3 linked regions of the Homo sapiens genome follow. The protein of the gene in region 1 purifies or fractionates together with the protein of each later gene. This does not show direct contact. Each region holds a gene or a part of one and is shown on either strand. Other genes may lie near its edges. The genes, in order: CFAP107, PM20D2 and GGPS1.

Region 1 (3,654 bases):
GACCTGGGGTAATCTTGGCTGTGTAATGAAGCCATCACCTGTGCCCCATGGTGGCGGGCTTAGAGCACAGGTGGCAGGGAGCAACATCCACGCATCCTTCCTCCCAGTCTTATTTACTACATGAATAATGACAATATTTCCCAGGTAGTGCTCCCTGCTGCAATGATAACAAACACTGAGGAATTTCTGGACTCGGGGAGTTGACATTCCAGGGGGGAAACAGATAAGACACCATTAAAAAGTAAGAACACTTAAGATCACATAGATAATTTTAGACAGGAGTGTGCGCTATAAAGAAAACAGGTAATGGAGAGAAAGTGAGGTGGTGAATTTGTGAACCTCCTTTGGTTCACAAATTCCTCCTTGGAAAAGTGAGGGGTGGTCTTTGTTGAGGAGATAGAGTTGAATTGGGAAGAAGGGAGCCATACAGGGATTGAGGGGGAGGACATTCCAGAGGAAGGAACAGTAAATGAAAAAGTTCTAAGGCAGGAATGGAGGAGGATCATGTAGGGGTTCATAGGGCACAGTGAAGGGAATGAAATTTGTCCTATCCACAATCCCAAGACTTGGAATGCACTTTTGTAGGAGAGTGCCTTGATGTGATTTACATTTCAAGCCACGTCCACACTAGTGAGGACACAGAGCAGTGCCAGCTCTTTGTGGTCCTACCTTTTGATGCAAAGGGACACAGGTCAGAGGATGAGCTGCTGGTCACTCTGCATTACTTTTGCATGGGATTCTTCTCAACATCACTCTCAGTGCACACAGCTTCCTTCCCGACAGGGGTGGGACAATTACTCAGGACCAGCGAGGCCACGCACAACCACACCATGGGGCTGACTTTTCCAAGGCCCCCGTGGCAGAGCCTGATCTCCCCTGAGCACTTGGGATGCAGGTGCACCTTGAGACCGCCAGGGGCTGGCTGAACCAATGCTCTCTGCAAGGCTCTTCCCTGTGGGCCTCTGCCAGCCTTGGTCCCTGACAGAGCAGCCTGGGAAAATCTCCAGGGCCCCTGCTGCCCAGTCTCGTGGCCATTGGCCATTTAGAGCAAGACTCCTTCTGTAAGCCCCATTCAACTGGACCCTGGTTTCTCTTGCAGCTCCCCCTACAAACTATGGACTCTATGAGCAGCTCAAGCAGAGACAGCTCACACCCAAGGCTGGCCTGAAGCAGAGCACTTATACTTCATCCTACCCCAGACCACCGTTGTGCGCTATGTCCTGGAGGGAGCATGCGGTCCCGGTCCCTCCCCATCGCCTGCATCCTCTCCCACACTTCTGAGAGCTGCCACCCCAGGAGCAGCTCAGATAGAATCAGCTGGAGACCACAGCATCACTGGACTTGCCAGACAACAAGTGGCGCAGATAAACTCAGAGTACGAGATCTGGCCCGTCAAAGGTGCTCTCAGAATCATCATCTGCATTTGGCGGTACCTGTCCCCCCTCAAAACCCACAGGTTCCTTTCTTTTCCATCCAACAATTAAAGATCTTTGACACTATTGCAGGGCTATGTACGTGCACAAGACAGATTCAGACTGTCAGAGAAAACAGGAAGGGCCCTTAAGTTCTACCCTGTTGTTTCACAAGAGGGGAAACTGAGGCCCGGAGAGGTAATGTGACTTGCTGAAGAGTCTACTCCCATGGAGGAAATGAATCTGATGATGAAACCCATCATGAAAACTCCACAGAATGACTGAATGTGGTTCCCAGGAGGGCAGTGCTGCAGAGCTGGCAATGGGGAAGGACCCCAGCTTGTCTGTCATTGCCAAGGCAGAGGAAGGCGTGCTCTGGCCCCACGGGGCTCAGAAGAAGGGGAAAACACATGGCATTTCCTTTGTCTCTGAGCTCGCAAATCTTTGTGTTTTTTTTTTTGTTTTTTTTTTTGAGACGGAGTGTCGCTCTCTTGCCCAGGCTGGAGTGCCGTGGCACGATCTCAGCTCACTGCAACCTCTGCCTCCAGGGTTCAAGCGATTCTTTTGCCTCAGCCTCCTGAGTAGCTGGGACTACAGGTGCGCACCACTACGCCTGGCTAATTTTTGTATTTTTAGTAGAGACAGGGTTTCACAATGTTGGCCAGGCTGGTCTCGAACTCCTGACCTCGTGATCCGCCTGCCTCGGCCTCCCAAAGTGCTGGGATTAGCAGGCGTGAGCCACCGCACCTGGCTGAGCTCTCAAATCTTTATGAGCCTGGGCAGAGGGGAGAACCTCTGGTGAGTGATTTGGGAGAGAGGGTGGATCTCCTAGCAGAAGAACTCAGGCATGGTCCTCGCCCAGGACAGGGGTCCACAAGTGTGCATGCTCAGTGCTCGCACAGAGCTGCCTCTTTGAAGAAATTCCAGCAGACACCTTTGGCCCTTTGCATGCTTGGCTCATGGGCACAGGTGTGTTTTGTCAGTGATTTTGTACTGCACACCAATAATATGACTCCCAGTATGGGAGCCTGAGTCTCTGCCATTGTTTTCACAGGATACCTGCTGGCCTCAGGCCACCTACCTTAGGGTCACTTTGGCACCTACTAAGTTCCTTCCTTAGTCATCCAAGTGTCCATGTAAGGACGCTGTCTTCCATCCCAACTGAAAGTCAGAGCCTGACACAGGCTAAGTCCTCTATGTTTGTTGGATGAGTGAATGACAGGAGTTGAACAAATGAGTTGAATGAATGAATGACAGGAGGAGGAGCCAGGGGGTGCAGAAAGGTTGCACCTACCTTAGGGTCACTTTGGCACCTACTAAGTTCCTTCCTTAGTCATCCAAGTGTCCATGTAAGGACGCTGTCTTCCATCCCAACTGAAAGTCAGAGCCTGACACAGGCTAAGTCCTCTATGTTTGTTGGATGAGTGGATGACAGGAGTTGAACAAATGAGTTGAATGAATGAATGACAGGAGGAGGAGCCAGGGGGTGCAGAAAGGTTGCTGCAGGAGACAGCTGTGGGATGGAGTGGAGCTGGCTGTCCTCACACCTCCAACATCCAGCCTTTCTATTGAGCATCCATTGAGCCATGTCTGGGCCAGGCCCTGACCTCACAGAGCCTCAGTCCAGCAGTCAGGGAGGAGCATGAGGTAAATGGCTGCAGGACAGAGAGGTGCTGCAGCTGGAGGCCCTGGGGGACAGCGATGGATTGCGAGGAGTGAGGGAGACCCAGGATATGCTAAGCAGGGGCGTCTAATCTTTTGGCTTCCCTGGGCTACATTGGAAGAAGAATTGTCTTGGGCCACACATAAAAAAATGAACAGGGGCTGGGCGCAGTGGCTCATGCCTGTAATTCCAGCACTTTGGGAGGCCTATATGGGCGGATCACCTGAGGTCAGGAGTTTGTGACTAGCCTGTCTAGCACAGTGAAACACTGTCTCTATTAAAAATACAAAAATGAGCTGGCATAGTGGTTCATGCCTGGAATCCCAGCTACTCCAGAGGCTGAGGCAGCAGAATCGCTTGAACCCAGGAGGCGGAGGTTTCAGTGAGACCAGATGGTACCACTGCACTCCAGCCTTGGTGACAGAGTGAGACTCCATCCCAAAAACAACAACAACAACAACAAACTTACACTAACGGTAGCTGATGAGCTAAAAAAAAAATCGCGTAAAAAAACCCCATAATGTTTTAAGTAAGTTTACAAATTTATGTTGGGCCACATTCAGCCTGCAGGCGGAGGGT
Region 2 (3,654 bases), on another chromosome or scaffold:
CTGCCTCAGCCTCCTGAGTAGCTGGGATTACAGGCGCCTGCCTCCACACCCAGCTATTTTTTTGTATCTTTAGTAGAGACGAGGTTTCATCATGTTGGCCAGGCTGGTCTCGAACTCCTGACCTTGTGATCCACCCACCTCAGCCTCCCAAAGTGCTGGAATTACAGGTGTGAGCCACCACACTGACTGGTTTTGTTGATTTGAACTATAAAGTTAGTATTTAAAATCATGTACTGTGTAAAGTGGAGTGAGTTTTAGAATTATACAAGATAAGAATCTTGCCCTAGAGGGAGCCTGTAGTCTAGTTGGAGAGACAAGATCTTGACCCATAACTCTCAGCCTAGCTAATTCTGTAACCTTTAGAAATGTTTAGTGTCTTTGGCTCTCCATTTTCTTGCTTGAAAAATGGAGATAATAACAATTTATCTTAGGATTCTTGTGAGAATTAAATGAGATAATGTTTCTGAAGGGTTTAGAGCCCAGCCTTCATTTATATTGCCTTATTTTTTTCTGTTCTTATTAGTCTAGAGATGTATGATTGATTCACGTAGTAGCAGTATCTCACAGTAGCAGTAATTCTCAGAAAGCATATGTTACGTGTCCTGAGAGTAGTGTGGAATGTGTCGTGAGGATCAGAGGTGGGAAAGAGTGGTCTGGGGCTGTTAACCTTGGAGGAAGGTTTTGTGGAAGACTGTAGACCTGAACTGAGCTTTGAAGGTTGATCATACTTTCAGATATGCATGGGAAAGACAGAGACTGAAAGTTCTTAGGGAATATAGTCAGCAAAGATAAGAATATAGAAGCTCGTGTTGTGTTGTAGTTAATCGATAAACATATGGACAGATGTAGGAGCAAAGATGTATTCTCATATGCCACTAGAGAAGATGGTTATAGTGAATGAAAACTGTGAAATGTCCATAGCTGAGGGCAGTAAAAACTAAATATTTATTCCCTTATTCATTTATAATTATAAATATTTATTTGTGAAATACTTATGGATGTGAACTATTATCATTAGGCAATATCTCAAGGTATACAGTATTCCCTTATGGTAAGGTTTGTTGTTATTGGATTTGAATCTATATTTAATTTAATTTATTTATTTTTAAAGTTTTTTGTAGAGATAGGCTCTCCCTGTGTTGCCCAGGCTGGTCTCAAACTCCTGGGCTCAAGTGATCCTCGTGCTTTGGCCTCCCAAAGTTCTGGGATTGCAGGTGTGAGCCACCTTGCCTGGCCTAAATCTATATTTTAAATAATCTTTTAGTAATTTCTTATATTTTGGCTGACTTGTAAGGTCTGATTTGGTTGTCATAATTTCTACCGTAGATGTTGCTAAGAATAAAAGAAATGTCATCTCTGCCATTTTATGATTGGCTTTTGCTAATATTGGTTTGAGGGAATATTGCCAATTTTTATTTAATCAAAACTGAATCTGTAAATCCACTTAACTGGGCACATAAAAGCTGCTTCCGTATCTTTATATACTGAAATTAATAAATGAGGACTGTTGTCAACCCTTCCTCATTGCAAATCTTCTACATTTCCCTCAGAGTACTTTTCTACCTCTCACACCAGGCAGTGATGTCAGTGTCAGTTTGCATATTGAATATTAGTAAAGCTTAATTTCTTTTTTTTGGAGACTGAATCCTAGAGCAGTGTTCCTCAGAGTGTGGTTTTTGGGTCACCTATGTCAGAATTACTTTGAGGTGCTGGTTAAAATAAAAATTAGGCTGGGTGCAGTGGCTCATGCCTGTAATCCCAGCACTTTGGGAGGCCGAGACGGGCAGATCACATGAAGTCAGGAGTTTGAGGCCAGCCTGGCCAACATGGCAAAACCCCATCTCTACTAAAATACAAAAACAATTAGCTGGGCTTGGTGGCAGGCGCCTGTAATCCCAGCTACTTGGGAGGCTAAGGCAGGAGAATCATTTGAACCTGGGAGGCGGAGGTTGTGGTGAGCTGAGATCACACCACTGCACTCCAGCCTGGGCAACAGAGTGAGACTCCATCTCAAAAATAAAATAAAAATTTCTGGGCCCTTCTCATACCCTATCTAGGTGACTGAAGTTGACACTTGGTAGCTAGTATAGAGCTTGGTGACATTGTGGGGTTTAGTGTATATATAGCATAAAAGAGAGTCCTAGGAACTCTCGTTATAGAAAATAAATCTTTTTTCTTTTTTAAGGTAAGAGATTTGAGAGTGTTTATATCTGGAAGGGAAAGTATCTTCTCTTAAAACCTCTTCCTATTAGAGAACAATCACTGGTTTGAAAATTAGATAGTGAATTTGAGTTTTTTATTTCAAAATTTGTTTTGCAATTTTTTATTAGGTGGAAATTAAAGGTGGAGCACATGATTATTACAATGTTCTTCCCAATAAGAGCCTATGGAAAGCCTATATGGAAAATGGAAGAAAGCTAGGAATAGAGTTCATTTCAGAAGATACAATGTTGAATGGCCCTTCAGGTAATTAAGTGTTTTTTTATATATTGAGCTATTTGAGGAAGAGAAATACCATCTTTGGTTAAATTGGTTGTATTTAATGGTTTGGGAGGTCGGGAGGTACTACTGACGTTTTTAATATTTTCACAAACTTTATGGTTAGGGGAAAGAAACTAATGGACTCTTAAGTGAGTGTAGAATGTCAAACGAGCAGACTTGATTTTAGAAATAGTCAACCTACATTTTTGTCTGTATTCTAAATATTTTCTAGTGTTTAAGTTTCGTTAGTTTTAATTTTTAAGTAAGTTGCTAAGGTGGGATATAGAATTTTAATTCATTCTCAGTCATCACAATAAGCAGGTTACTAAGTACTTAGTTATCTGGGGCATTTTCAGTTTCTGAGGAGCAACAGACAGCTAGAATTGAAATAAGCATATTTGGGGTTATGTTAGTTTTTTTTTCCTTTTAAAAGCATATTATTACTAATACATTTGCAAGTTAGAGATGTATCATCTGTTTTAAAAATAGATGTTGTTGAAGTAGGCCCAAAAGGACTTGGTGGTGAAAATGGGGTGTCGGTGTCATTCATTAAGATAAGGAGTTCAAGAGAAAGAGCAGGTTAGGGTAAGAGGGGGTTGTTATAAATTATTAGTATGTTAAACTTGAGGTGCTTATAGTATTTCTAAGTGGAGCTGTTCAGTACCTGTTAAATCTAGAACCCAAAAAGATGTCTAGTTTGGAGATTTAGGAGTTGTCCATATATGAAAGGTATATAGAAGACATAGATGTCGATGAGGTTGCCCAAATACATAGAGGAAGAAGATTCCCAGAGATCAGACATTGGCAGTCAACGAAGTGGTCAGAGAGAAAGCCAGACAATCAGGAGAGAGGAGAAGTCATGGAAGCCAAGGGAGAAGAAAACTTACAGAAGAGAAGGAGGCATAAATCATGTCAAGTGCTGTAGAGACTGAATAAGATGAATATGGTCTAGTGTCCACTGGACTCTAGTAATTAGAAATTCATGAATTGTCTGGAAGAAAATAGTATAAGACCAGTGGTACCAGATGCTGGGTCTCACTTCTCTACCCAGGGCATTGACTGCTGAGATAGTGGAAGTAGCAAATGAAGACTATTCTTTTTCAAGAGAGTTAGCTTTCAAGGAAAATAGAAAGAGTGGATACAAGCTTGAGGGAAATACGGAAAAGAAAATAG
Region 3 (3,654 bases), about 220 Mb from region 1:
GGTACGTGTAAACATTCAGGGACTATATGATCTCTGAGAATTTGTATGTTGTAAGTCTTTGTGGCAGTGTATACATTTGTGTTGCAACTTATTAACACATACACCGGGCTTTTTTTTTTTTTTTTAGAAGATTCATAGCTTTCATCATATTCTCAAAAGGTTTCTGTGACCCATGAGATGGTTTACAGTATGGGGAAGCATCAAAGCACTTGCACAGTTGATGGTTATATGTGTGTGTTATTATTTCAGCCACCCATTATCATGTGCTTACCAACTGCCTAACAGTGCATACATATGTAGAAGTTTTATTCTTTTCTCCTGTTGCCATATTATACGTCTCATTTCACAGCAGAAAAACAACTGCATGACAGAGACAATGTGGTTCAAACCATTTTACCCTTGTATTCATTGACTGCTACAAAACAGGAACATTAAATACCTGATTGTCACCAAATTGGGTAGTCTCAGCACTTCTACACTCGTAATTGTGCTGGAAAAGTGGAATGCTAGCACTAATAATTAGATTTTGGTTTGGAGGGTTTTTTATTTGTTTATTCTTACTTGTATAAATTTATGGGGTGCAAGTGTAGTTTTATCACATGCATAGATTGCATTGTAGTGAAGTCAGGACTTTTAGGGGGTCCATCACCCATGTAATCACGTTGTACCCATTAAGTAATCTTTCATCATCCACCTCCTTCCCACCTTCTCACCCTTTGGAATCTCCATTGTCTATCATTCCACACTCCATGTCCATGTATACACATTATCTAGCTCCCATTTATAATTGAGAAGATGTACTATTTGTCTTTTATGTCTGACTTGTTACACTTAAGGTAAGGGCTATCCATCCATTTTGCTGCAAATGACATGATTTCATTTTGTTTTAATGGCTGAGTAATCATTCGTTGTATATATACCACATTTTCTTTATTCAGTCATCTGCTGATGGACACTTAGGTTGATTCCATATCTTTACTATTGTGAATAGTGCTGTAATAAACACATAGTGCAAGATTTTGGAAATTTTACTTTTGTGGCACGTTGTTGGTATTTACTCAGGATCTTTGGATTTGCTTGGCTGCATGTATATGAATCAGTGTGTTTATTTACTGAAATATGTGCAAAAGTCTTGTCTTTGGTGGATTAATTTATAATATAAATCCACAAAAGTCAGATTCTGCTCCTAAGTATATTTTACATTTTTAAATTTAATGCCAGCAAGAAGTTACAGTACTAGAATTGCCTTACCCCTGAGAGTATCAATGATCAGATCATAGTATCAGGTGACTGGGCTATAGAAGATGACTTTTATTACTTAACATTATGAAGTTACTAGGGCTGATTTAGAAATCGAGGAACACTGGTGAAACCCCGTCTCTACTAAAATACAAAAATTAGCTGGGCGTGGTGGTGGGCACCTGTAGTCCCAGCTACTCAGAAGGCTGAGTCAGGAGAATTGCTTGAGCCCAGGAGGCAGAGGTTGCAGTGAGCCGAGATCGTGCCACTGCACTCCAGCCTGGGCGACAGAGTGAGACTCCGTCTCAAAAAAAAAAAAAAAAAAAAAAAAGGAACACATCCTCACTGTTACAATAAATAACAGTAGCCCACACCCCCTTAGTTGTGATGTGGTGTGATACCATGTAAGCAACCTATTTCCAGTTCCCCTAACATTCTCAAGCAGCTGTATCAGAATCATACAAGATGCATATTTAAATTGAAGATTTCTAAGTCTCTGGCCCAGACTTAGAAAAAAAGGATCAGGCCGGGCACAGTAGCTAACACCTGCAATTCCAACACTTTGGGAGGCTGAGGCGGGTGGATCGCCTGAGGTCAGGAGTTTTGAGACCAGCCTGGCCAACATAGTGAAACCCCATCTCTACTAAAAATTCAAAAAATTAGCTGGGCGTGGTGGCAAGAACCTGTAATCCCTGCTATTCGGGAGGCTGAGGCAGGGGAATCACTTGAACCCGGGAGGTGGAGGTTGCAGTGAGCCAAGATTGCGCCACTGCACTCCAGCCTGGGCAACGAGCAAAACTCCGTCTCAAAAAAAAAAAACAAAAGGACCTTTGAGCAATCAGAATAACACAAAGTACATGAACTGAACTTCATTTTCTTCATTCAAAAGAAAGTGGCCCTCACTCAAGCAAATATATTCTTGTGCTTTATCTTCTGGCATACTGAGATAACTTTCTAAAGTGGTTTCCAATTCCAAAATCCAATGATGTGCAACTCATTGAACAGCCCTAACCACAAACTGCCATTAGATGCCATATTACATTTAGCCTTTTTGTTGTAGAAAAGTTGGTTAGAAGTGGGCTCAGGATTCTAAAGACTAAATCATAGTCCCAAGAAGCAAAAGAAAGAGGATAAAAGTAATAAACTTCCCAAAATGTGCCAAAGATGCTAGAGCAGTTAGATTCCTAATATGAGGACAAGTAATAATAGAAACAGATACAAAGAAATAAAGTAGAGATTCAACAGTACAGGGAGACCCTAGGAAGACCATGAGTGTTATTCTAGGAAATACTGAAATAAGACAGATTTCAGTATAAAGGGGAATATGTTTAATAAATATATGCATTTGAGTTAATGCGTATTTTAAATCAGAAATCTCTGAAATGGATTGATTGTAGAGAAACTACTAGGGGGACGAGGAGAATCCCTTTAAATTTTAAATACATAAAACATACTCATCTTAGTGCTCATTTAAAAAAGGATATGTTTACTAATTAGTGTAATCAGTTAAATACAGAGGTATCTTTCCAATTCTTTGGATGTGTTTTGACATTTGCCGTCAACAAATTAAGCCTTTTGTGGTTGATTAAAATAGGAAAAGCTTAATATAAGTTATGTGACTAAGAAAACAACTTAAAAACCAAGACAACACTTTGACCAATATAATCACTTGAATGAAGAATTTTCTAATTGAGATATAATTTACATACCACCCATTTAAAGTGTACATTTCAGCAGTTTTTAGTGTATTCACAGGGCTGTGCAACCATCACAATTTAATTTTATAACATTTTGATCCCTGCGAAAAGAAACCCTGTACTCATTAGCAATTAGTCCCTGTTCCTAACCACTAATCTACTTTCTTTCTCTGTAGATTGGCTTATTCTGAACATTTCGTATAAATGGAATCATACAATATGTAGTCTCTTGAGATTGGCTTCTTTCACTTAACATGTTTTCAAGGCTTCATAGCTGTAGAATCTTGCTTTGTTTTTTTGAGACTGGAGTCACTCTTTCGCCCAGGCTGGAGTGCAGTGGTGTGATCTCAGCTCACTGCAACCTCTGCCTCCCGGGTTCAAGCAGTTCTCCTGCCTCAGCCTCCCAAGTAGCCAGAACTACAGGCACACACCACCATGCTCGGCTAATCTTTGTAGTTTTAGTAGAGATGGTGTGAAGGCTGGTCTCGAACTCCTGACCTCATGATCTACCCACCTCAGCTAATTTTTCATATTTTTAGTAGAGACAAGGTTTTGCCATGTTGCCCAGGCTGGTCTCGAACTCCTGGGCTTAAGCTATCCGCCCGCCTCAGCCTCCCAAAGTGCTGGGATTACAGGCGTGAACTACCGTGCCCAGCAACAGAATCTTCTTTTTAAACCAGACTAGGTGTCTTTTCACAAACACCCTGCAATACAAATT

Evidence for each region.
Region 2: the proteins of CFAP107 (region 1) and PM20D2 purify together in Homo sapiens (affinity purification with mass spectrometry; one large-scale study listed by BioGRID and IntAct). This does not show direct contact.
Region 3: the proteins of CFAP107 (region 1) and GGPS1 purify together in Homo sapiens (affinity purification with mass spectrometry; one large-scale study listed by BioGRID and IntAct). This does not show direct contact.

Annotation. Positions count from the first base shown.
Region 1 is NC_000001.11:12,759,671-12,763,324, forward strand, and holds part of CFAP107 (cilia- and flagella-associated protein 107), read left to right. Parts: intron 1-1,099; coding exon 1,100-1,281; 3' UTR 1,282-3,654. UniProt on the Homo sapiens protein: Microtubule inner protein (MIP) part of the dynein-decorated doublet microtubules (DMTs) in cilia axoneme, which is required for motile cilia beating.
Region 2 is NC_000006.12:89,155,995-89,159,648, forward strand, and holds part of PM20D2 (xaa-Arg dipeptidase), read left to right. Parts: intron 1-2,330; coding exon 2,331-2,466; intron 2,467-3,654. UniProt on the Homo sapiens protein: Catalyzes the peptide bond hydrolysis in dipeptides having basic amino acids lysine, ornithine or arginine at C-terminus. Postulated to function in a metabolite repair mechanism by eliminating alternate dipeptide by-products formed during carnosine synthesis.
Region 3 is NC_000001.11:235,331,522-235,335,175, forward strand, and holds part of GGPS1 (geranylgeranyl pyrophosphate synthase), read left to right. Parts: intron 1-3,654. UniProt on the Homo sapiens protein: Catalyzes the trans-addition of the three molecules of IPP onto DMAPP to form geranylgeranyl pyrophosphate, an important precursor of carotenoids and geranylated proteins.